Linked DNA regions of Homo sapiens: all the other regions are linked to region 2. The links come from fine-mapping of genetic effects on gene expression. A gene starts in region 2. Each other region holds a variant in brackets. All regions are shown on one strand. Distances are between the middles of the regions.

Region 1 (5,103 bases), 290 kb after region 2:
GAGCAGCTGGGACTACAGGTGTCTGATGCCACACCCAGCTAATTTTTGTATTTTTAGTAGAGATGGGGTTTCACCATGTTGGCCAGGCTGGTCTTGAACTCCTGATCTCAAGTGACCTGCCCGCCTCAGGATTACAGGTGTGAGCCACCATGCCCAGCCTGAGAACCACTGATTTTGATAAAACCAAAATCTTCATGGAGTTTCCACCATTCAATCTTAGGTCTATACCCCAGGGCTCCACCCATGTCTGTCTTCAAGGGGGCAGTAGCTGAGAGGCTGAACTTTAGAATTCATGCTTCTTTCCATCTAGTCCACGCTCAAGGTCTCCCAGAGCATGGGATTCCCACCCATCTCTCCCCATCCCTCCTCTAAACAAACCCCATTTGGTTAATGTTTCTGAAAGACTGAAGGCCCCCAAATTCCCAGGTGTGGCCTGAGCAGTACGGAGGTCCCTGTGGACCTGTCACCTCCCCCTTGAGACACGCCATTTCTATTCCCACCTCTGGGTCTATCTAAGCCCCCAGCCACCTGTCCCATAGTTCCTGTCCCTCATCCCTCCTGGCGTTGTGATTTGAGTGTGCAAAACCTCTCTGGGCTCCTGAAGAGCAGGCATCCTACCAAGAAATAGCAATGCAGGCAAAGAAAACCTCCAACGTATTAAGCTGGCTTCGTTAGGAGGCCAACTTCTGAAAATTCAATTTGCTGGTGGTAGAAACAGGATATTGAGTCTGGCCAGGATGGGCTCTGAGGAGGGCATCTGAGGGGGAAGAAAGGAGGCAGCAACCTGCGGGGGTAACGGTAACGTTGGGTACATTCCTCGGCAACACTAAAACCCACTGCTAATCACAAACAGATTCCTGCCTGCCCAGGGGCTTTCTTTGTTCACTCCGATTTCTCCCTCCAAACATGACACTGAATCCACCAGGCTCTGCCTCTCTTGGACTTCTGTCACTTCTGTGGGCCTCAGTTTCCCTGTGCTATATGAGAGGACTGGGCTAGGGTCTGTAATCCAAGCCTAATATCCCAGGATCTAAACTTCTCTGACTTAAAAGTCCCCAAGAATCTGGAATTCCAGGATTATAACATGCCCAGATTTTATGACGGCAGAATTTGATGAGTCAATGATGGCAGGTTCTAAAGTGCTATGATTTTAAGACTCTGTGGCTTGAAGATCCTGACCTTGTGACTTTCTACGATTCTAAAATTTGAAGAGTGTAAGTCTCAACGACTTTAAGTGTCTGTGAGGCAGTGCTGTGTGCTTTAGAGCCAGGCGGCCAGTGACCCTGGGCAAGTTACACCTTTCAGTGCCTCCGTCTTCACATCTGTGAAGTGGGGGGTCACATTGTTACTACCTTCTGGGGTGGTTGTGAGGATTAAAGGCGTTGATATTTGTAAACAATGTCTGGAGTAGTAAGTACTCAGTAAATGTTTTGTACCTATCATTATTCTAAAATGAACAGTTTCTACAGCCTCAGAATCTGAGATGGACCTCAAAGGCCCCAGAGTTGTAAGTTTCAAAGAATCCATTGTTGAAAGATTCAATGACATACGAATTCTGTCAGCTGGCTATGGACATACCATGTTTGGGCGTCCTTGACCCAGGATCATGGGATTTACCATGGGCAAGCTGAAGAGGCTGGCTGGCCAGCCTGAACCTGCCACTCTCAGCCACAAAACCAATGAGCATGACAAGTTTGGGACCCTCAACTCCTGAGAAGTGCCCTCCTCTTCCCCCAACACTTACCACTGGGGATAACTTGACCTTCTGGCTAAAGGCTCATTGACCTTGACTAGCTCCTGGAATCCATAAAGACACAGGAAGACCATCACTCCCCTAGCTTGGAACTCCATTCCTGAAGGACCTGCTGTGGCTCCCTACTGTCTTTCAAACCAAGTTCTATTTCTCAGTTCTTTTGGAGCCCCTTAATATCTTGTTCACTTCCAGGTAAGTAAAGATAATCCGGAATGGGGAAGGGAGAACTGGGATGGTTCATCGGAAGTTACTTCTAGGTCCAGGTGCATTTGTTCATTCTTATTCACAACACAGATATTAAATATCTATTATATGCCAGTCTCTCTTCTGGGCTCTGAGGACACACAAGTGAATAAGACAGACAAGGTCCCTGTTCTTGAGACCTCACAAGACTCCCTGACTCACTGTAGAGCATTATTCTCAGGGTAGAAGAGTACAGGCCATTTCCCAGCTGCACAACCTTGAACCAATGCTCTGGGCGTCGTTTGTAAAATGGGTCAATAACACTACCTACCAGATAAAGTTATTGCAAAGATTAAAAGAGATGGTAAAGAGCTTGGCAC[A/G]GTGCACGGCACATAGTCTACAATCCATGAAAGCTGCTTATTATTATTATTGTTGTTACTTCATTTCTACCTCCAGCTCCTTTTACAGCACTTAGTGTGGTGGCTAAAAGCCCGACAGACCTGGACTCAAGTCCTGGGATATTAAAGATGGATAATCATCGTGCCTGCTTCCCAAGGCTGCTTACCTGGCATGTTGGCCATACCCAGCCAGGGCTCAGATGGTAACAGAGACACATTCTCACTTTCCTCCACTCTTTCCCCGAGAACCCATCCCAACCAGCCTCACTACCTGCATCAGGTCCCACACAATGCACAACCTGAGCAACTTCCTTTCCTCTTTGGGTTCCAGTGTCTTCCACATAGGGCCTGAGTAAAACTGGCTCTAAGACATGGGCTGAGACATTTGGGCATGACACAAAGGGCAATAGGGAGCCAAAGCTGGCGCTAGAGAGAGGGAGTGTCCATCTAAAGGGTGTCCCCTGTCTTCCAGTGGTTCCTCTATACCCTTTGCATCTCATCCTCACAGCTGCCAGGGGCTTGCTCCTGCCAATGCTGGCCATGAGTCCCTGGCCTGTTTGGGGGTTAGGTTATTTTTTCATTAAGTTTGTAATTATTTTTAAAATGCAAGTCAAATAGTGATGTGCTGAGCTGAGCAGCGGGGAGGTTAAAGCTTTTTCCCTGCCTGCGGCCTGCTTGGCCCCTATGCTGTTCTGGGTAATGGGGAACATTTTCGGGAAAATAAACAAGGAGGCCTTGATTCTTTGGGGACTTTATGAACTTGACCCCACCCCGACTCCATACCCCACCCCGTTAGCAGGCCTGGTCGCCCTCCCTGTTAATTAAAGGGGAGACTAGTTTCCAGGGCAATTTCAGCTCTGGCCGGGCCTGTGCCCACATCCTTAAGAGGGAGGCCATGGTGATGGGCCGGCTGGGCGGCTGGTGGCCTTGGAGGTAACAATTTGTCTTGAGATGGAATCCACTCCCCTGAATAAAGGGACTTTGTGTTCTCTCCCATTCTCATGCCCCCCTGGTCCCCATGGAGGGATTAGAGGGGAAACATCTGTGGTTCCCCAAGAACAGTGACCGCCATGGTAGGCAGCTCTTAGGCCACTGCCTGGGCCAGCAGGACTTTCTCATGCACACTGGGCCTCTGTCTGTCCTCAGAGCTCTGCCTTCTCATAGAAAACATGGATCCACGCAATCACTGGCTCATTCATTTGTTCACTCAACAACTCTTTATTGAGCATCTACTGATGTACCAGGTGCTCACAGGCACCGAGTGTATGGAGGTGAAAAAGCAAAGCTCCCCCTGGTCATGGAGCCCATGATCTAGTGGGGTCGACAAACCTAAAGATAAATAAGTCAATCAAATCCATTGGCAGGCAGTCAGACATAAAACAAGTTAGTAGAGAGAAAGTGACAGGTGGGTGGGGATCCTCCAAGGAGGTGGCATCTGAGCAGGGACCTGCAGGTGGAAAGGGGTGAGCTGAAAACAGTGGCACTTAGCAGGGACAGGTCAACCTCATGCCTCCACCCCACTTTTCCTCCTCTAAGCTTTTTGGTCAAGGCTGCTCTCCACTCTCTGCCAAGCCAGCAATGACTTATCTGTATTCTCCTTAATACATAATTTGCTATTTTATTAACTGTATCAAATGCATTTGTAAAACTAGAACATGAAGCCACCTTGGCGTATAATGTAGGCTCTTACTCCAGTAAGAGTCACAAAACCCACATTGCTGACACACTTCTGTCCAATATAAGAGGGTGCTTTTTCCATTTAAAACTCTAATGAAATGGTGGCTTTAAGATAGTAGACTAAAGACATTTCTATTCCTTTTCTCTTCTTAAAAAAGAAAAAAACAAACAAAAAACTTCCCCAAAACAAGAATAAGGAGCAGAAACAAAAACTCTGTCTTTGAGGAAATCGAGAGACATTTGTAACCCTGAACTACAAAGGAGGGAAATGGATGAAGTGGCCAGTGACATAACCGAGAGGAAGAAAGTCAAAGCTAAATGGATGGGGTAGGTGACTGCTGTGTGGGTGGATTGCTGCATAGAGAAACAAGCCAATTTGCCTAAAGGCCTCAAAAATTGAAGCTACTAGGTCTTGGAGGAGCTGCTGGTGAAGTGGGGATTGAAAGCAATCTGTACAAGGAGCATGGGACCTCCACGTCCCCAACCCCCATCCTGCCCAGCCAGGTAGTAACCCCACTCACTTCTGGGCAAGCAAAGGGAGGTTTATTCTCTGAAAAAAAGGCAACAAAGAAACTCCAAAACTAGAAACATCAGGCCCAGAGAAGGTGAGATCTTCAGCCCCCTTCACCCGTCTCATTCTAGAATGTCCAACCCCAGGCAGAAAATTATCTGGAGAACCACTTCCAGGACAAAGACCTAAAGATACGGTAATTGGGGGTGGGAGGAGAGTGCATCACAGAAAAAGCCAACCAGCCCCTTTGCACCAGCCCTATGCAACCACCCTGCATGGACCCTACACAAAAGCCTACCAGTCCACCCTCCCCACCCAGTTTCCAGCCAGAGTGGTAATGTGAGTAGACAGCCAAGGATCATTAGAAATTTCTATCATGAAGTGCAGAGATCAAAGCAAACCATGAGGGCGGGGTAAAAGGTCTTCAAGAAAAGAATCCAGGGAACAAGAGAAAACTTAAAATAAATCCTACAATTAATATCCCTTGAGTGATAAAGATATTGCAGCAGTAAAATGTGAACAAGAAGCTCTCTGGAAGGAACAGAGAGTAAGAAACCAGAGATTAAAAATCTGTGCAGTAG
Region 2 (5,103 bases):
GGGCAGGAATGGTGGGGCTCCCAGTCCAGCTGAGGCAGAGGTGCTGGGGGAGTGCTGAGGAGGTAATAAAGGGAGTGGGCTGTGGAGGTCTCCATGTCAGCCCTGGGAGTTTAGCCCAGACCCTGAAGCAGGAGGGAGCCACTGAAGAGTTCGAGCAAGGGCATGCCCAATGAAAGATATTTCCAGGTGGCTGGAAGTCAGTGATGGGTGGCAACTATCCAAAGAGGGAATAGAAAGAGAGTCCCTGTAGGTATTAAATAGGTGGGAGTTAGGGGACCTGGGCTCCATGCTGACATGCTGGGACCACAGGCAAGCCCCTTACCTGGAAGGGCCTGCTTCCTCCTCCCTCTTCTATAAAGGCCCTTTCAGGTCATGACTGAATGAAGTGAGGTGGGGGAGGAGTGGCTTGGTTTAGTTAGGATCTCTATTTTCCACTTTGCTTTGGCCTTGGACACCTGACCTAAGGTGGGTCCATCACCCACGTTACCTCAGCTTCAGGCCCACACAGCTTACTCTGAGGTTGCCCCACACCTCAGCTTTCTGAAACAGTATGTCCCATAGAAGAGAAGACATGAACTTGGCCCACTTTCCAGCTAACTTGAGAGAGAAACTTTGCCTCTGTGCCTCAGTGTCCCCACCTGGAGGAATGGTGTGAGTCACACCTACTCTGCAGGGATGGCATGAGAAGCCATTGAGATAATGCCTTTAAAGTGCCAGGGGTAGAATCTCTGTGCTCTCTGGGAGTAAGTGCTGAATTAGTGGCAAATGTCTTTCTTGTTATTATTCCTATTGTGTGTTTCCTGTGTGGGACTCTGGGCTGTAAGCTCTTCATTGGCAGGCACAAGATCTGACACCCAAGGCTAGTGCAACTCTGCCAGGTGGGTCATGGGAACTGTGACGTAGGCCTGCCTGGCCCAGGAAGCAGCCCAGATACTGACACACCCTGAGTGTGTACAGCGTCAATCCTCATGGGACTGCCCAGCACACGAGTCCCTCGTCCCTCCCCAGGCACCCAGTGCGACAGGCACCCTCACCCAACCAAACCCACCAGGATCTAAACTAAATTCTTCCTCCTTTTCTGTTCAAATTTATATAATTATTTTTGGAATAAGTAGTACATTTAAACTTTTCAAAATTTAAGACACCAAAAATGTGCCATAAAAAAAAAAATCTCCACCTCAGCACACAGCTCCTTAGGTCTGCTCCCAAGAGACAACCACTCTAAATTCCCATTAAAATAATCAAACTTAATTGCTTCCCCCTTACAAAAGTCATGAGCATTCAGAGCAAAAGCTAACTTAAAAAAAAAAAAACCACCTTGGAACACACAAAAGTACAAACTGAAAACCTCACCCTCAATGCTGCCATTCAGAGATACTCAGCATTTTAGCGTATGTCCTCCTAGACTGCTTTCAACGCACATCCACTTTACAAAAAATGAAAACAAAATGCAAGAAGAGATTCACAATATTGATTTTTCAACATCTCACTAGAATCTCAGAAATGTTTCCTCATACCTTCTTCCTTAAGTGACTTTAATAGCTCTGTGATCTTCCACAGACAATGATTTATTCAAGCAGACCACAGAGATGGGCATTTGGGATTTCTACATTTTCCTTACTAGAAGCAGCAGTGATGGATGGGCCCTGTGACTCCACTGTAACAAATTCCTAGAAGAAATGCTGGGTCACAGGATATGACCACTTTTTAATATCCTGGCCTAGACCCCTAGATACCTATCACAAACCGCCCTCTAGCCAACTGCCTCGATCAGCAGGACTAGGTGTCCAACCCAAATTTAGAGCTATTTAAGAAAAGGCCAAGAAGTCTTGGTTCATAACCGTCTGAACAGCAGCTGTGAGGGCCTTAATCCCACCTCCAAATCCAGACTAAGGCCAAAGGCCTCCTCTGGGCTGGCAACCTGCCTTGTTTACCCAGCCACAGCCCTCACCTGTGCCCATCCCAGTCCAAGGTGAGTCAGCTGAACAGGGGACAGGCACCACCCTTCCCAGATCAGGAAGCCAGCTGAGAGACAGGGCTACGTTTCAGGGAGGGAAACAGATTCAGCAGCGGCAGCAGCTGGAGAAGGTCGTGGAGCAGCACCTTGCCTGCAGGTAAGCGCTGGGGGCCCTGACCCAATCCTGGCTGGGATTGGGATGAGTGAGACCTGCTCTCACCCTGTCCCCTTCCCTCCCTGCCCCTTCCCTTCTGGGACTTCCCAGGCAGCTTCCTTTCGAAGTGCTTCACTCCAAGCAGTCAAGTGTGAAGTGGGGTTTCTTCTTCTGATCCCAGCCCTGGACCAAGTTTGATTAAGGGCTGAGTGATTTTCTTCACCCAGACATCATGAGGGCCCCCGATGCCTTCTGACTGCCCATGACTGTGCTCAAGGAGATGAGATCCACACTTTGCTCCTTGAAAGGCCAATTCCAGCCGAAACCAGAGGCTGCAGGCAGGCAAAAAGCCCATTTCTCCCAAGGAATCCACAGCTCAGGCCGACTTCTCTGGCCTGAGGCTGTTTCTATCAAAAAACCTTCCTGCCACAGCACTGAAACACCTGCTGGGGAACTGCGCCAGGGGCTTCACCTTTCTAAGAACTGGTTTCTTCATCTGGAGACTGAAAATAGCCCACAAAGTCAGGAGAATGGAAGGACATACTGGACACAGGAGCCAGTGCATGCCCTCCTCAGCAGGGTCTCAGAAAATGGGGCAGAAAACGAGCCTGGTATGGGCTGGGCGAGCACTGGACAGGCAGCTTCACGTACAGTGGCCCAAGCTCATGACAATTCCACCACCATCACTTCCCACCTGGGCTCCTGCTCCCACTCCTGCCCTGTAGCCCATCCTCCAAACATCAGCCAGAGGAGGCCTGTCAAAATAACCCTTGGACCTTGGCACTCTGCTGCTACAAATCCCCCAGTGGCTCCCATCTCACTACAGTAAATGCCAAAGTCCTCACCATGACCTCCAGGCCCTCCAGGATCTGGCCCCTCTCACTTCTCCAGCTTCCTCCCCACTACTCCTCCTTACTCCCTCTCTGCACAACTGGCTTCTCACTGGCAGATGTCCTCTAAACACAACACCAACTCCCACCTGAGAGGCTCTGCAATGGCCGTGCCCACCCCATTAGGCCTTTCCTCAAATGTCACCCCACCCAGCCAGCAAGGCTTCTGAACCTCCTGACATGACCCTCCGTCCTGCTCTTTCTCTCCAGTGCCTCCCACCATCTAACACAGCACACAGAGTCACAAAGCCTATTTATCCAGCTCTTCCCCCAAAGAAAGTACATTTGGGGACCAAGTCTTCTTTCCTTCACTGCTGATACCTAGAACAGTACTCAGACTTAGCAGGTGCTGAGTAAGTAAGCGCTGAAACAATGAATAAACAGCTAACTTTTACTGAATGCCTATTATGTGCTAGGTGCTGTGCTAAATGCTTTCCATATACACCTTAACTCTTTTTAAAAATCTTTCAGTCTCCAGACAACTGTGATGCAACTATTGTTATCCAGATTACAAAGGAAGAAATGACATTCAAAGGGGATTTGCCTATGCTGTGCTCTCACAAGTCAGAAGCAGTCAGTCTGAACCCTGCCCTGCCTGGGCCTGGGTTCAGGCGTGTCTGCTTGAGGAAGTCACAGCTTTTCCCCAGCAGGCAGTGCAGCACTGAGAGGAGGAGTGGGGGTACATGCTGGTGGCCTAGCAACAGCTTCTTCTATTCCGACTCACCACATCCCTGGGCTAATTTGGCCTTCCAGGAGCTATTCCTCTGACACTCTAACCCACGCTTCCCTCCCGCGCACTGTCTTGTAAAGGACGGATGAGCTGTCCACAGGAACGAGTGGGAGTTCCATCACTTCAGCTCTTTGGAACAAAGTGTTCCAAAGAGTGTTCTCACTCTAAGTTCAAAGATGGGGGCTGAAGTCCCCTTGTCAGCCCTGCTGATCTCCGAAGCCCAGCTATTGGTTTGTTGTGGGTGTTGTTATTGCTTATATCAAAAAGTACAGAAGCTCAGGGATGGAAATCTGGAAAGGGCTGTGGGAGAGGAAAATTCCTCTGAGAGAGAGGGGTTAGGTGGGTTCTTTTCCTTTCGGAGGAACCAATTACTTGTGGGAAGCCATCAGCACAGAACTGAGCAAACTTCCACTGTCAGATTATAGGAGCCAGGCAGCCTTTCAACCTAACTCGTTAGGGCCATGGTTTCTCTCCTTTTCCAGGCCCAGGTTATTCTTCGAAAGACTTTCTACTTATTGACTGCAAACACAGACAGGCATGGGAAGAAAGACTGTATATTTAGGATATCAGGCTTTCTCTTCTCTCTGTGCCTGCTTTTCCACTCCTTTCAGAAATAGTAATGGGATGCCTGTTGTGTGCCAGGCACTGTGCTCAGCACTGGGGGTTAACAAATGAGTGACATTTCCTGACCAGTGAGGGAGATGAGCAAACAAACACAGCACAGTGGAAATCCAACCTAGGAAATGCAGAAGGCCTTGCTCATAGTAGGTGATTAACAAACACTTGTGGAATATATGATGAAGAGGCAAATACAAGAAATGCTGTCGTCTAGAGAAGGGAGGCTTGCCAATCTCCATGCGTACAGGTGGGGGAAAGCTTTAAATTGGAGGAAAAAGAGTTCACAACAAGGAAAAGAGAGAAGGCATGAATGACTCTTAAGACAGAGGGAATAGCACCTGCAAAAGCATGGAGGCATGAACTAGCAGGCTGACTTTTAGGACTCAACCTAAAGTAGTCTGGAATAAATGAACTTCATGATAAGTGTGGAGAAGAATGAGATGGTGAGAATGGAAACATTACCAGAAGTCAGGTCACAGAGATTTGAGGGCAAGAAGTAGGTATGGCTTCAGAAGGGAAAGGGAGGAGCTGAGGATAACTCCCAGATTTCTGACATAGCCCATGGGTGGATTCAGTGAGACCGCTGGGGAGGCGCGGCACAGCTGGGGAAAATCACGAGTCCAGTTTGGATAATCTGCGAGGTAAACGGGATCCAGAAGGCAACTGGACTCTCAGGCCTGGGCCTCCCTGTCCCTGGAATAGCACACTCTCTTCCCACTTGAACATCCATCCTACACGGCCCAGTCAGGGTCTT
Region 3 (5,103 bases), 60 kb before region 2:
ATAGCTGTCCTTGTAGGCCACAGTCAGCACCTGAGCCTGGGAGGTCTGGTAGATGAAAGCGCATCCTTTTGGTGATTTGTCATCGGAAGGATGAGGAGAGTAACCATTTACAGTGCTGGGGTGAGTGGGCAGTTCATTCAGTTCCGCAGCCAACTGGGGCAAAGATTGGGACTCAAGCCGTGAGGAGCTGCCTTCTGCCGCACCCCCTCCCCACCCTAGCTTGTACATAGCCACACTAGGGTGCTTGGCAGCATGTGTCCCACTCCCACGTCTGCCCCTCATGCTCGCCCATGTTCTGGTGCTGCCAACAGGACTGGACCCCAGCATGTAGGCAGTGCCGCACTTCACCATGTCTCTTTGTGAAATATCCCCACACAGCATGTCTGGAGCCTTTTCCTATGAGAACAGATGGTCATGAGACCCAGAACACCATCAGGGTTTCCAGTGCCTCTTGAAGTGTGTGTTTTTCTCGCGGGTGGCACGCACCCACATGTTTCCAGAGCAGCAGCAGGACCCTGGCATGCATTAGGACAAAAGCTTTCTTTTTGATTTCGTTTTGATAAGCCCTATAAAGACGCCTTAGTGAGAAGCCAGCTCTGCCTCATGCTCACAGAATAGACTGTTTTCGAGCAGGCTGGTGGCTTTGTTCCCGTGGGTCTTTGTCACCAGCCTCCCAGGAATAACCTGTTTGAGACCTGTGGGGGCGTGAGAGGAGTGGGTAGGCACTGGGAGATCTCATCTGTAGCAGTTAAGGCTTTTAAGTCACTGGGAACAGAATCCATCTTGGGGGAACATGATCAGAAGGTGGAGGTTATAAAGGTTCCAGGGGTTTTCAAAGGCAGAAGCCCACTGGGTCCTAAGAAGGGAAAAGAAATAATCATGATGCCTCTAGTTCTCATCTCTGTTTTTTGGTTGTTGTTTTGTGTTTTGTTTTGTTTCCTGCCTGACTGCCTCAGTAGTCTCCTGTTAGAGATTTGTGTTTGTCTGCTTCTCCCAACTGGTGGGTGGTGGAAGTCCCCTGCATGCTCCCCCGTCCCCCCTCCCCCCTCCCCCCTCCCCATGGCCAGCTTCTCTGTCTTCTTTTGAGTATCTGGCTCAGATTTCTTGGCTGTGATTCTGATTGTTACTTCTCTGAGAAGGAGAGTTTGAGTAAGGTGAACACTCTTGATCCAGTCAGCTCTTGCCAGGTGTCCACTCAGCTGATTTGGGCACGGGTCCAGAGAAAGAGGGGTGGAAGTAAGGTGGCCAAAATCTCCCCTTAGCCATCACAGGTGTGCAGAGCACAGACTGACCTTTACCACATGGATGCTTTAAATGCCACTAATGGCTGTCAGTCACCTTGATGTCACTCTCAAGGGTCCCTCTGGTGACTTCCGTGACCTTCTGGCAGAGCACAGCATGAGCAAGGCCTCAAAGGAATGCCTGCACTACCTCTGTGGTACCAGAGGGAAAATACAAAGTTCACTATCACCAGCTAAGCATCTCCTAGGAGCATGACAGGCATTGAGGTGGGAGGGAGGTGGTGGAAAGGTAAGCTGCCAAGTAAGTGCCTTTAGGAGCCAGGGAATTCTCATGGCGCCTCCCTGCTGCCTCCAGTAGCTTCGTCATCTTTACTGTTAGCTTGTCCTGGCACACAGCTAGGTTTAGACCTCTTTTACTTACTTCAGCAGGCCGTGTGCCTGCCATTGTGAGAGCAGCCCCAAGGGGATTGAAGGAATGTTTTCTTTTTTCTTCTTAAAAAGTAACTAACTGGACATTTTGTCCTTGGGATCAGGTTTAAGTCAGGTATAGCCTCCCGGTTTCTGACTGAGAAAAACCAGGAGCCCCTCAACCTCATGTCCTCAGGAGGTTGACTGGGAAGGCTGCTGAGGCTCCCGGGACAGGTGTGGCCACTTTGCTGCAGCCTCCCTCAAGCCCCTTGCTTTTCCTTAGCTTTGTTCCCCCCTCTCCTCTGCTTTATTCCATCCACTCCCTTGCTAGGTATCTCTTGGTTGGTGATCTGATGTCTGGAGGGAGGCTCACCCTCAGCAGAGATGCCTCAGATGGCTTCCCCTGACGTGTGCTGTCTTGAGGCACACAGGCTGTAACTGTTGGGCAGGGCTGCAACAAGTCCCTTTGCCTTCCCACAGCAGATGTTTTTTGAGCAACAGCAGCAAGCCAGGCTCTAGGGACATGGCTAGTGAACTAAATAGACAAAGACCTGATCTGGTGGGGCTTTGCTTATGATGAGGAGACTGATAGTATGGCCATGGAGCACATCAGGTAGTAAGAAGCGCTGGAGAGATTAAAGCAGAGTGAGGGATGGGAAGGGAAGTTGGCTGCTTTTCGTGAGGGTGATTGGAAAAGGCCTCTGAAAAAAATGGCATTTTAACATTCACTCAAAGGACATTGGAGAGGGAGCTACAGGGCTGTCTAGAGTATCCAGGCAGAGGGAAGAGCTAGTGCAGGACCCTGAGGCTGGAGCCTGCTCGGTGCATTAGAGGAACAGTAAGAAGACCGGTGCGTTAGAGGAACAGGAAGTGGATTGTGTGAAAGGGTATGTGGCAGGAGATGAGGGGATGGTGGAGCCTCGTTGGTTTTTATAAAAACGTTGCCTTTTTCTAACTCAGGTGAGAGCCA[C/T]TGGCTGGCTTGGCTTTTAATGCCCGCCCCCGCCCCCCCAACCCACGCTCCTTCTGGCTACTGTGTGGACAATGGGCTTTTGGGGGCAAAGGCAGAAACAGGACACTGGTTGTATCCCAGGTGTGTGGAGTGCCAGCTCAGGCAGTGGGCAGAAGTGGTGCCAGGTGGACAGTGATCCCCAAAGAGCATGTGGGTTCTTCGCTGTGTTCTGATCTTGACCCTGCCATACAACGGGCTATGAGAGCTTGAACAAATTGTCCCACAGTTCCCAGCTTCCACATGCTGTCTATAAAATGGGAGTAACGATGCCTGCTGTGAAGCAAATGCCTATCGAGACTACCCAGTTGTCTCCAAAGTGTTGCTCTTTTTTAAAACCACAGTTCCATTGAGCCTCACTCATCGCAGTTGTTATGTCTGTAATCTCAGTCTAGAAGAGTCCTTACGCTGTTTTTTTCTTAATAACTCTGATTTCTTCAAAGAGAGCAGGCTAGTTATAGAATACTCCACATCTGTCTTACTGTTTTCTCATGGTATTGTTTAACTTGTTCCCTGCCTTGATTTTCTGAACCGGATGTTTAATCTTTTAAGTGTCTGAATAGATTCCGTTTAAACATTTTAGTGTGAGTACTTCATCCTCAGCACACATGGGAAACATCACTAGTTGTGATGCTAAATTTGATCTTTTCTGTAAAGGTACATTTTTCCCTTTGCATTTAGCAGTGATCTGTGGAGTGCTTAGGTAGCCATAGATGGTCTCTTGCTCATCAGCCTTTCACCTAGTGGTGTTTACACCATCTGATCATTCTCCCCTGAAGAAGTCACTGGCATTCACAAAGTGTTGATTTTTAAAATTCCTTCATTCTTTCTAAATTTATTAGCTGTTATCCTTCTATAAGATAAGGTAAAGTAATTCTTTACCTTTAAATACCAAATTTTATTTTTATTTTTTGAGACAGTGTCTCTGTCACTCAGGCTGGAGTGCAGTGGCTTGATCATGGCTCACTGTAGCCTCGACCTCCCAGACTCCCATCCCGGCCTCCCATCCGGCCTTCTGAATAGTTGGGCATACAGGTGCATGCCACCTGTCCTAATTTTTGTATTTTTTGTAGAGACGGGTTTCGCCAGGTTTCCCAGGCTAGTCTCAAACTCCTGGCCTCAAGTGATCCACCCTCCTTAGCCTCCCAAAGTGCTGGTAGTACAGGCATGAGCCACCGTGCCCAGCCTTTAATTACCAATTTTTAAAATGAAAAATGAATGTTAACTGATGGGGTATTGCCATTCCCAGTGGGGGCAAGTGACTTTTTCCCCCTCTATTTGCTTTGACTGTACTGTGGGCTGAAATTTTTTGTCAGGGCCTTAAGATCAATGATACCCATTATTCTTTTTGATGCTAATATCATCCTAAATTTGGCCAGTAGGAGCCCTTTAAGCTGGCTCCAGTACCTTTTTGACAGGCTCCCACCATTCCTTCATCCATTTCTCGGTTTCACTACTCTGGTCCAATTATCAGCCATCTTTCAAAGAGCTCTGGTTCCTTTCAGTGGGGTCCATGACCTTTTTTTTTCTTGGTAACAGCTTTATTGAATATAATTTACATACCATAAATTCACCTATTTACTCATAGATGTTTTAACTAGAACATTTTTAGGCTTAAACTGATTTTTATGAATTACTGAGGGGTTTATTGTATCCATAAACTGGAAATCATTTGTCTGCCTTGGAATTTTCTCTAAAAATATTGTCACCTGCTGTTTCCCATGGAAGAAGCCAAGGTTATGAATAACTTAATCACATAGCATTCAGTTCTCCCTTTGGTGCTCATGGTGACATTTGTTTATTTTTACTTCTATTTTTTCTTCTGTTTTTTTGTTTTCTTTTCCTGCTAAAAAGCTTAACCAAGTCTCTGCATTCCCTCCCCTGGACCCCTTTGATTTTGACCAGGTGTATTCTAGCAGTGCAGAAAGTCGGGGAGGTAGAAATAACCAGTTCTTAGATGCTACTGTCTCTTTCTGTTACATTTGCTCTTCCTCTCCCAGGAGCTCAAGCCACCTTGGCCTGCATTCATTCCTCGAATGCTCCAAGCCTTTTCCCACATGGAGGTCTCTGCCCCTTTGCTTAGGTGCCACCACACTGCCCCCACTCCCCACTGCATGACAGGCTCTTTTCTTTATAGCACAGCTTAAGTAACACTTTGGATGCATACATGCATGCTTCTAATTCTGCAACAATGCACCCATCTATTTTCTTAGCCCCCATCATAGTCAGGATCCGTGTAGTTAAACATCTGCTCTTTCCCCAACCGACTGAAGGCTCCAGGAGGCCAGACCCACACTAGTGTTGTTCTCCAAGGTCTCCCCATCAGTCTTGGCATAGAGTAGCTATTCAGTGACTGTTTGAATGAGTGGCCAGTTAGGACCTGGCATTCCCTCGGTCACTCAGTGAATATATAAGGAGCTGGGCAAAGCCTCAATGTTGCCCTCAAGA
Region 4 (5,103 bases), 54 kb before region 2:
ATGGGAAATGTGCTTGCACTGTTGGTGATCTCAGGAAAATGATAGTGAGAGTGAGCTGGTTCCCTCTTTGGGTTGGCACTTGGACCTTTGGTCATACCCCTCACTCATAAGGAGTTCTCAGAACCCCACTTCAGGGAGGTTGTGCTGGAATACAGCCACAGAGACCCAGAAATGGAATAATAAGAATGTAAGATTTGAATTTGTATCTTTTGCCTATCTAAATGTAGAATCCCTTTTTACCCATCATGATTGAGACAAGTGGGTAGTTGGTATGCTAACATAAAAGTGACATGGCTTCTGTAAACATTTGATTTCAAACTCTAACATAAATCATTTGCTAAAGGACTATGTCTTTATCTTTGAGGATGGCTCTGCTAGTGGAGTTTCCCATCATAGTTCTTGCAAAAACCAATTTGACCTTTTTTAAAGTAGAGCAAAGAGTATTGTGAGAACATTTAAAAACCAAACCTTTCCAGATTTTTAAGATTTCTTTCTCTAAATGTAGTCTCCCATATGATTATTCACTAGCAATAGTTTTTTAGTGACTTGCCTTTATTGAGTCTTTCCCAGGAGTCAGCTAGAACCGCTGTTTGTATTCACACTCATTTTATTGATTTACATACTATTTAATTACATTATATTTACACAGTAAATATAGCTACCATAAATGGATTTGGGGACAAACACAGCTAACCACTCCTCCCTTTGTGAACACAGAACTCATATGGGAATGAAGAAGTGATCATGAGCTAGAGACTAAAGCATGAGGGGAGTGCTCTTCACTATGCTGGGGTACGAAGGCTGTGAGTTTTATGAGTCTCCAAGTAAGGCAGCTGAGTAAAAGGTGGTTAAGAGAACTTCTGTGTCTAATAAGAAGAGGGAAAGCAAACAGCTAAACCATTAGACCTTGAGCCATACGCCCATCTGGGAATGTTCTGAGTGGCTTCAAATGCAAAGCTGCAGAAAAATACTGGCTCCCCCTACCTCCACCCATTCAACCATTACACCTTTTTTTTTTTTTTTAAGAGACAGAGTCTCGTTCTGTTGCCCAGTCTGGAGTGTACTTGTGCGGTCATAGCTCACTGCAACCTCAAACCTCTGGGCTCAAGTGATCTCCCACTTGATCCACTCAAGTAGCTAGGACCATGTCTGGCTAAATTTTTTTTTTTTTTTTTTTAATTTTTTGCAGAAACAGGATTGGGGACATGAGTCTTGCTGTGTTGCCCAGGCTGGTTGCAAACTCATGCCAGTCTCAAACTCCTGGCCTCAAGTGATTCTCCTGCCTTGGCCTTCCAAAGCACTGGGATTACAGGCATGAGCCTCCTCCGCAGCTGGCCTCATTGTACTTTTTGTCATTAAGAAACTCACCTGCGTGTTGAAAGTAGAAATCCTTTTCCCTCTCCAAACTGTAAATGGCAAGGACTTTATTTTATTTTGAAGGTTTGGGGCTTAGGATATTCTGGTTTTTTGTTATGTTTGATTTTTGGTTTAGTTTAGTCATTTTTTTTTTTTTAATCTTAAAACTTCCCATATTTTGTCCCTGTAAAATGCTGCCTATAGGAAACACTCCTGCAAAGATTCATGAGCAACTATAAACTGCATTGTGAGTCATGAGCTTTCACTACAAGTAGTGAAGCCATAAGTCTGTAGAGGTGCCTTCTTCAGTCCTGTTACCCAGTAGAAGGTATATGGCACTCTGCCCTTCCCCAAAGCAGAGTGCCTTGGAAGTGACTCCATTTCTATTGGGTTATTAGTGAAATAGTATCCCAGTGGTCCTTGTGAATCTCCAGGTCCTGGTCTTGAGTCTTAACCACCGCTTCAGTGGCTTGAGCCAACCACCAGGAACACAGTCTGGGGATACTTTGCTGCCCAGGAGCTGCTGGCCAGGTCTCCCTCTGCTGATTCCTTGAAAAGCAACAGGAAAGAGCAGGCTGCTGTGGAGTAGACAGACTTGAGACTCTCTGCACCGTCTTGTTTT[G/T]TAAACCCTTTTGCTCCCTTTCCAAGGATTTCAGTTCAGGAGGAGACCCAGGCGAAGATGACGTCAACAGCCTCTGCATGCAGTCAGTCATAGCTTTGGCTTCTTTCATGGTCTTGTGCTTTTAACTGGAGCACATTTTCACATTTTTCTTACTGATTAGTAACTAAAGGTGCTTAAAGTAAAGTTTACCATTCTGGGATTACCCCTCATATTCTTGTTACCATATAGGGAAGAAGGTCTAAATATGAAGGCCTCATGCTTGTCCTTCTGGTTCTTAAAAATCATGCAAGTAAAGCAAATCCAAGAGTGCTCTTGAGTACCAGCACCATACGTGCCACCAGGACACAGAACGCAGGCCAGGTCTGTGAGCTTGGGCTGCATTCAGTCAGGAGAGCCAAGACTAAATACTTAAAATAAGAATATGGAGCTATTCCAGGCAGTTTGTTAGGCATGAGTTATAGGCTTGTACGGCCAGGAATGAAATTGGTCAGTTCTGCAATTAGAAGGCAATGCTTGTGATGTTTTATGCTGAGTGGCCTTTAGAGCTTAAAGACTGTCAGCTGTCTTGTCTGCACTGTAACCTCAGTTGCCTTCTCTGAGCAGGGCACGCTTTCTTTAGGAAATTATGGCACTAACTTGGCAGGTGGTTTCACTGTTCAAGGGCTCCAGCTCCTGGCACAAGTGATCTCCAGAGTTAAAATTGGAGCAGCTGCTGAGACTTGACTTGCTGCCTGCTTTACCTGTTCCCTCCCCAAAGAGAGGAAGCACTTTTCATTCATTGCCAGTGTGTATGTGGGAGCTAAACATATATAGCATTTTAGTAAATGCCACTGCCTACTCTTTTTCTTTTCCTTTTTTAAAAAAGTTACTGAGGCGTGATTGAAATCCAATATACTGCACATTTTAAAAATGTACAGCTTCATAAATTTTGATGTGTCATTGTTTCCCTTTGAATTCACCCCTCCTTACCCTCCTCTAACAACTACTGATATGCTTTTTTGTCAGTGTAGATTTGTTGCATTTTCTAAAGTTTTATATAAATGGAATCATACAGTACGTTCTCTTATGTCTGCCTTCTTTCACTTGGTATAATTATTTTGAGATTCATCTGTATTGTCCCATGTATCAATTGTTTGTTCCTTTTTGTTGCTAAATATTTTTCTATATATAGAAACATGTATTTACCAACTTACCCGTTGGTGGATGTTTGGGTTAGTTTATAGTTTTTGACTATCGCTAATAAATCTGCTTTGAACATTTGTGTACAAGTTTTTCTGTGGACATAGCCTGTCATTTCTCTTGGATAAATACTCAAGATCAGAATGGCTGGGTCATATGGGAGGTGTATGTTTAACTTAACTATCAAGCTGTTTTCTGAAGCTTTATGTTATATTCCCACTAGCAGTGTATGAGAATACCAGTTCCTTCACATCCTCACTAACACCTGACGTGGTCAGTCTTTTTAGCTTTACTCATTCTAATCAGTGGTGGTAGATGCGTTTCCTAGTGGTTTTAATTTGCGTTGTTATAATAACTAGGAATGTTTAGCATCTTTTCATATGCTTACCTGCCCTCTGTCTTTTTCAATGAAGTATCTGTTCAAATCTTTAGCCCTTTTTTATTGGTTTTCTTAATTGTTGAATTTTGGTTTGTTATATTCTGGATATAAGTCCTCTATCAGATATGTACTTTGCAAAAGTTTTCTCCCAGTGTATGGTTTGTCTTTCATTTTCTTAACAGTGCTTTTTAAAGTACTGAATTTATTTTGATGAAGTTCAATTTATTCTTTTATAGATAGTGCTTTTTGACATCATACTAAGAAATCTTCACCCAACTCGAGGTCACAAAGATTTCTTTCCTATGTTTTCTTCTATAAATTTGATAGGTTTAGTACTTAACATTTAGGTCTAGGATCCATTTTGAGTTAATGCTTGATAATGGTGTGAAGTTTTTACTGTGTTATGTGTGGATATTTTGTCATTTCAGCCCAATGTAATTTTCATCTCAGACATTGTAGTTTTCATCTCTGAAAGTTGGAGTCTTATGGTTCTCCTCTACTAATTCTAACATTTGTGTTAGTTCTGGGTTGCTTTCAATTGATTGATAAGTCTCCTCATTGTGGGTCCTGTTTTCTGCCTCTTTGCATGCCTGGTAATCTTTGGATGCCAGACATTGTGAATTTTGCCTTTTGGGGTGCTGGATATTTTTATTCCTATAAATTTTCCTGAGTTTTATACTGAGAAGCATTTAAGTTACCCGGAAACAGTTTGATGCTTGCGAGTCTTGCTTTTGTGATTTGTTAGGTAGGTCTAGAGCTCAGTTTAGGGCTGATTATTTCCTACTATAGGCAAGATCTTCCTGAGTATTCTGCCCAGTGCTTTGTCAATCATGAGCTTCTCCAGTTTGACCGGGGGGTAGTAAGCACTAATCCTAGCCCTGTGTGAGCACTGGATACTGTTCCTCTAAGCCTTTTGGATAGTTCTTTTCCTGGCCTTGAATAGTTTGCTCAGATACATGCACTGAGAGGGACTCTGCTGAATACTCAAAGAGGACCCTGCAGATCTCTGGGGATCTCTGTATAGCTCTCTCCTGCTGGTACTGTGTCCTATGGACTCTAGGTGCCTTGAGCTCCACTCCAGGTCCCTCTCCCTGGAAACTCCCAAGGATATAGGGCTGCCCTTGTTTCCCATGTCTCAGGATTTATTGTTCTTCATTACAGATGTCTGGTGTCCTACAAACCATCGTTGTAGCTATTTTGTCTAGGTGGTTTTTAGGTTTTAGTGGACTTTTTGTAGGGAGGAAGGGGTTGGTTGGTTGGTTGTTGGTTGTTTCATGAACAAATCTGATCCTTGTCCTCCACCGTGACCAGAAATGGAAGTTCTCACTATCTGTTTTGACATTACAGACTGAACAGCATAATTCCTACACATGCACACTCATTCCAGCTTAACAAACACTGCTTCCACCTTCTCCCCCAGGCTGACAACTTAGGGCCATAGATAAGTGGCCTGTTCCTCCCCACTGGGGAAGCCCTCCTTCTCCTTGTCCTGTAGCTTGTGCCAGTTGTGTGACACCCACTTAATCACATACCACCCCACCCATTTCGGGGGATTATTGTTTAGCTT
Region 5 (5,103 bases), 930 kb after region 2:
ACCCAAAGGAGATGATTCTCCTTCTGACGTATCATCAGGTGAGTAGTAGTCTAACGCTAGATCACAATGCCCATGTCATTCATTTACCTTCATCTCATCATGTAGGCATTTTATTATCTCCCATCATCACAAGAAGGGTGAGTACAGTACAATAGGACATTTTGAGGGAGAGACCACATTCGCATAACTTTTATTACAACATACTGTTATAACTGTTCTATTTATTGTTAACTGTTTGTTTTTTTTGTTTTTTTTTTTTTTTTGAGGTGGAGTCTCGCTCTGTCACCAGGCTGGAGTGCAGTGGCGCGATCTCAGCTCACTGCAACCTCCGCCTCCCGGGTTCAAATGATTCTCCTGCCTCAGCCTCCCAAGTAGCTGGGATTACAGGCATGCGCCACTACACCCAGATAATTTTTGTATTTTTAGTAGAGACGGAGTTTCACCATGTTGGTCATGATGGTCTCGATCTCTTGACCTCGTGATCCGCCCACCTCGGCCTCCCAAAGTGCTGGGATTACAGGCGTGAGCCACTGTGCCCAGCTGTTGTTAACTCTTAATTTGTAAGAGTTTAATTTACAAATTAAACCTTATCGTAGGTATGTATGTATAGTAAAAAACATGGTATATACAGAATTCTGTACTATCTGTGGTTTCAGGCATCCACTGGGGGTCTTGGAATGTATCCCCCCTGGATAAATGGGACCACTGTACATTGAAAAACAAGACCACACATTATTTTCAGCTCTTCCCATCAAGAGAAAGAATCAATTTGCCTGCATCCTGAATTTGATGTGGAATTTGACATGCTATTTGATATGCTTTGACACTAGTGCAGCTTGAACACTGGAATTTGTCCTCTCTTGTTGCTTTCTGAAACCCTGAGACCACCATAGGAAGGAGTAGGCTATGCCTATTGGAGGACGAGGCCATGTGGAGCAGAGAAGAGCCTTCCTGGCAAGGTAGACATTCGAGCTGCTTGCTGCCTGCAGCTGCAGGAGTGACCCAGCTGAATTCAGCCCAAATTGCCAGCCCAGAGGATCATAAACTACTGTTTGGGGTTTATAATGCAGCAGACTGACATGGCCTTGTTACTGGTGGAGAATATTTTTCCTCCCTTCACTAATGGCAAATTTTCCTTAGTCATGGTAATTAACACTATCTACCAGACAAACTCCAAATCTGAAAGACTTAACACAAGAAGCTTTATTTCTTGCTCAGTGAAATCTAAGGTGGATCTGGTGGCTCTCCTCCAGCTTGTAGCTAAGGGAACTTGTGGGCGCAAGGTGGCTGTGGCAGGGGAAGAGAGGGATGAGGCTCACCAGCTCTCCATTGCTTCAGCCTGCCACTCCTACACACACCCCACTGGTCAGAACTAGTCATGTGACTGTAAGGGAGGCTAGAAAATATAGGGGAGCTCCTGAAATATTGAGATGCCTGTCTTTGCCACAACGAACTTCCACGAATATAATTAGCTATGCCATCTGTACAGTTATCTGTTTAACATCTCTCTCCTCTATTAGACTGTGAACCCTTGAGGGTGGGAGCACATCTGTCTTGCATGGCACCTGGCCTATAGTAGGCATTCAGCGATGGTTGTTGAATTGCTAAGTGAATGAATAATCTGGCAGGTCACAATAGGATCTTTTGTGTTCAGCCCCCAGTGGCAGACATTCCTCAAGTAAATTTCTAACAGTCCTTCCCTTTCAGTAATATACATCTACTAATTTGATATTGTAAAACTCTTATACAATGATGATTAAATGAAGACAAGTAGAACATGAAAGTCCTCACTAATTAGGGTCGGGGTGTGGTGACATCCATTATTTGATAAGAGTGAATATTACATTTTATTATTATTTTGAGACAGAGTCTTGCTCTGTCGCTCAGGCTGGAGTGCAGTGGTGCAATCTTGACTCACTGCAATCTCTGCCTCCTGGGTTCAAGTGATTCTCCTGCCTCAGCCTCCCGAGTAGCTGGGATTACAGGCCCATGCCACCACGCCTGGCTATTTTTTGTATTTTTAGTAGAGACGGGGTTTCACCATGTTGGCCAGGCTGGTCTTCAACTCCTGACCTCAAGTGATCTGCCTGCCTCGGCCTCCCAAAGTGCTGGGATTACAGGCGTGAGCCCCCGCTCCGGGCCGATATTACATTTTTAATGGGCGGTTTTCATGTGGCTGCATCTGCGCAGCCTTGTCAAAAGTTCCTGCTCCAAGGCAAAAACCAGAGGAGTCTTTTTCTCTGTTGTGAGGTCTTGGATGAGTCTTCTGCTCTCTCTAAAGCTCATTTGTCTTATCTGTAAAGTGACAGGAACATCTGCCTCACTGGATTGTCATGAGGAGTAAATGAGTCTCTTTGTGGAATGGAGTGAAGGGTTGGCACGGTACCTGCCCTTGGCAGTCCTCGTGTTCCCCTCGCTCCACTGGTAGGTATCAGGCCAACACTCAGCTTGGAGGGAGCTGGGACAGGGTCTGTTGGAAGCTGGGAGGGGCAAGATAGAGGTCAGGGGCTGCCCCATGAGACCCTAGACACAACTAGGCCCTGTTCTGGGCAATGCTGGGTGCACAGAGATGAGACTGACTTGTCCCTGTCTGCATCAGTTAGCTTTTGCTGTAAAACAAAATAGCCTCAAACTTAGTGACTTAAAACCACAATGATTGGCCGGGTGCGGCGGCTCACGCCTGTAATACCAGCACTTTGGGTGGCCGAGGTGGGCCTATCACCTGAGGTCAGGAGTTGGAGACCAGCCTGGCCAACATGGCGAAACCCCCGTCTCTACTAAAAATATAAAAATTAGCCGGGTGTAGTGGCGCGTGCCTGTAATCCCAGCTACTCGGGAGGCTGAGGCAGAAG[CAGAAGA/A]ATCGTTTGAAAACCCGGGAGGCAGAGGTTGCAGTGAGCCAAGATCGCACCACTGCACTCCAGCCTGGGTGACAGAGTGAGACTCTGTCTCAAAAAACAAAACAACAAAAACAAAACAAACAAACAAAAAAACACAATGATTTTATTTAGCTCAATTAGCTCATGACCTTGCGGGTCACTGGGCAATTCTAGCGTGGGCCAGCCTGGGTCAGATGATCTAGGGTGGCCGCTCTCGAGTATCTGCAGTTAGCAGGCTGTTGGCTGGGCCTCCGCACTTCCGCACATTCTTTTCCCTACGATCCCCTCCCTCTTTGAACCTGGTTTTGCTCAGGAGTCACTACCCCTCCATATGACGCATGAGCTCCACTTAGCTCGAGGAGTGCCATGGTTAGTGTAAGCACGTGCCCCATGAATGTAAGCTGGTGATTGGTCAGAAACGGCAAGTGATGCAGTTCTGACCAGTGAGATGTGTGGGAAAGTCGGTCAGGAGCGCTTCTGGGAAAGCTTCCTCCATCCCAAGAAAGAAATGTGGGAGCACCATTTTTTTTTTTTTCGAGACGGAGTCTCGCTCTCTTGCCCAGGCTGAGTGCAGTGGCGGGATCTTGGCTCACTGCAACGTCCACCTCCCGGGTTCAAGCAATTCTCCTGCCTCAGCCTCCCGAGTAGCTGGGACTACAGGCACGCACCACCACGCCCCGTCTCTACTAAAAATTTTTGTATTTTTAGTAGAGACGGGGTTTCACCATGTTGGTCAGGTTGGTCTTGAACTCCTGACCTTGTGATCTGCCCACCTCGGCCTCCCAAAGTGCTGGGATTACAGGCGTGAGCCACCGTGCCCAGCCGGGAGTAACTTTTATTGTGGGCTTATTATGCCAGGCGCTGCTTGTTCTAATTGCTTTATACAAAATAAGTCATTTAGTTCTCATAAGTTAGGTACTATCATTGTCCCCCATTTCACAGATGAAGAATCTGAGGCATAGAGTGGTTAAGAAACTTGCCAAGGGTCAAACAGCTATTGAGTGCTGGAGCCAGGATTTAATTCCAGGCAGCCTGACTCCAGAGTTCTGAGTTCTCAGGTACTACAATGACCCCTGGCTTCTTCCTCTGGTCATGGACCTCTTTAATGTGACACCTGCTGTAGCCATTGGGCCAGCAGTCTCGAGACAATACAGCCAAGAGACAGAAGGAGCCTGGAGAGCCGGGGTCCCTGTGCGCAGCTTTGGGAGTTGAATGGACCAGCACTGAAGCCCACCCTATCTGCTGACTTCTTGTTTTGTGTGAAACATATTTCCATCTTGTTGAAGCCATTTTGACTCAGAAAGTACCCTAATAGAGACACTGCTGCTGCCAGAAGAAACAGAAGGAGTGCAGGAAGACCCACTGGGCTCCAGGTAATCTGTTCTCACAAACCACTCAGCCCAGGTTAAGACACAACTCTACGGCCTTTCACCATGGGGGCCAGTTTTGAAGGCAGGAAAAACTGGTAAGAGATCGTTGGAAAGGATGGAAGAAATTGCAGAGAAAAATAAAATTATTTCATAATTCTCCTTTATTAGGCACAGGTAAACATACATACTCATGGTATCCAAAACCTAGAGTATGGACCTGGGATTGTGGACCCCAAGTGTCCCCAGAAGAGTCCCACCTGGGACTTTCCAGGTGGCCACAGGACAGACCCTGCCTAATCCTGTCCCTCAACCTTGGTGCTCAGGTCAGAAGCCCCATGGTTGACAGGCCTGGACCCTCATTCCAGAACAGTCTTGAGTTAGACAAGAACTAGCCTCATAGTTTGGATTCTTATCTCTGGCCCAAATCCCAGGCTTAGGCCTGGAAGGAGAATCTCTTAATCAAGAGGACAGAGATGCTGGGAACACAGTTCCCAGAGTGAGCTGGGCTTGGGTCCTGAGTTGCAGGGGAGAGGCCTGGAGCCTTTGGCACAGGGATACCTCCCTTTCTCTGAAAAGGTACAAGATACAAAGGCAGCTGGTTTGTTTGTGAAAGGGATTGTCCTTGGACAGAGGTGCCTGAGCACCAGCATCAGTGGAGGCCGACACTGGTACAAAGTGTACCCAGTGTAGACAGTGACCTATGGTCATGGAAAAGTGTTGTCAGCTCAAGGATGCCAGTTTGTCATCTCTGTGAGCAGGGAATATTGTCTCCTTTGCTCACTGCTGTACTCCCAGCACCGAGAACAGGGCTTGGCACCTGATAAGCACCCAAGCAGGAACTGCATGTGTGTGGAACA

Which allele goes with the higher level. Alleles are on the strand shown, and positions count from the first base shown. SD is a standard deviation of normalised expression in the study named. Not every link is listed here.
For the expression in transverse colon of the gene that starts at base 2,060 in region 2, A is the high allele of the variant in region 1 and G is the other (small effect, 0.38 SD a copy in CEDAR).
For the expression in whole blood of the gene that starts at base 2,060 in region 2, C is the high allele of the variant in region 3 and T is the other (small effect, 0.22 SD a copy in GTEx).
For the expression in esophagus mucosa of the gene that starts at base 2,060 in region 2, allele T in region 4 goes with a lower level than allele G (small effect, 0.11 SD a copy in GTEx).

Evidence for each region.
Region 1: its variant is fine-mapped to the expression of SDCBP2 in transverse colon (CEDAR, PIP 0.95).
Region 3: its variant is fine-mapped to the expression of SDCBP2 in whole blood (GTEx, PIP 0.97).
Region 4: its variant is fine-mapped to the expression of SDCBP2 in esophagus mucosa (GTEx, PIP above 0.99).
Region 5: its variant is fine-mapped to the expression of SDCBP2 in sigmoid colon (GTEx, PIP 0.98).

Annotation. Positions count from the first base shown.
Region 1 is chr20:1,034,888-1,039,990 of GRCh38, reverse strand. No RefSeq gene overlaps it. Among named protein-coding and RNA genes, the nearest start is that of RSPO4, 35 kb to the right of the region's middle. The variant A/G (reference allele first, on the strand shown) is at 2,317.
Region 2 is chr20:1,326,096-1,331,198 of GRCh38, reverse strand. SDCBP2 (syndecan binding protein 2) reads left to right here and starts at 2,060. Exons shown (of 9, transcript NM_080489.5): 1 at 2,060-2,114. The region is part of intron 2 of FKBP1A-SDCBP2 (FKBP1A-SDCBP2 readthrough (NMD candidate)); the gene reads left to right. The region is part of intron 1 of SDCBP2-AS1 (SDCBP2 antisense RNA 1); the gene reads right to left.
Region 3 is chr20:1,386,303-1,391,405 of GRCh38, reverse strand. All of the region lies in intron 2 of FKBP1A (FKBP prolyl isomerase 1A), which reads left to right. All of the region lies in intron 2 of FKBP1A-SDCBP2 (FKBP1A-SDCBP2 readthrough (NMD candidate)), which reads left to right. Among named protein-coding and RNA genes, the nearest start is that of MIR6869, 4.1 kb to the left of the region's middle. RefSeq lists an enhancer at 1-265. The variant C/T (reference allele first, on the strand shown) is at 2,620.
Region 4 is chr20:1,379,759-1,384,861 of GRCh38, reverse strand. All of the region lies in intron 2 of FKBP1A (FKBP prolyl isomerase 1A), which reads left to right. The region is part of intron 2 of FKBP1A-SDCBP2 (FKBP1A-SDCBP2 readthrough (NMD candidate)); the gene reads left to right. Among named protein-coding and RNA genes, the nearest start is that of MIR6869, 11 kb to the left of the region's middle. The variant G/T (reference allele first, on the strand shown) is at 1,979.
Region 5 is chr20:396,846-401,948 of GRCh38, reverse strand. TRIB3 (tribbles pseudokinase 3) reads right to left here. Exons shown (of 4, transcript NM_021158.5): 4 at 4,390-5,103. Among named protein-coding and RNA genes, the nearest start is that of RBCK1, 8.9 kb to the left of the region's middle. RefSeq lists an enhancer at 2,447-2,947. The variant CAGAAGA/A (reference allele first, on the strand shown) is at 2,853.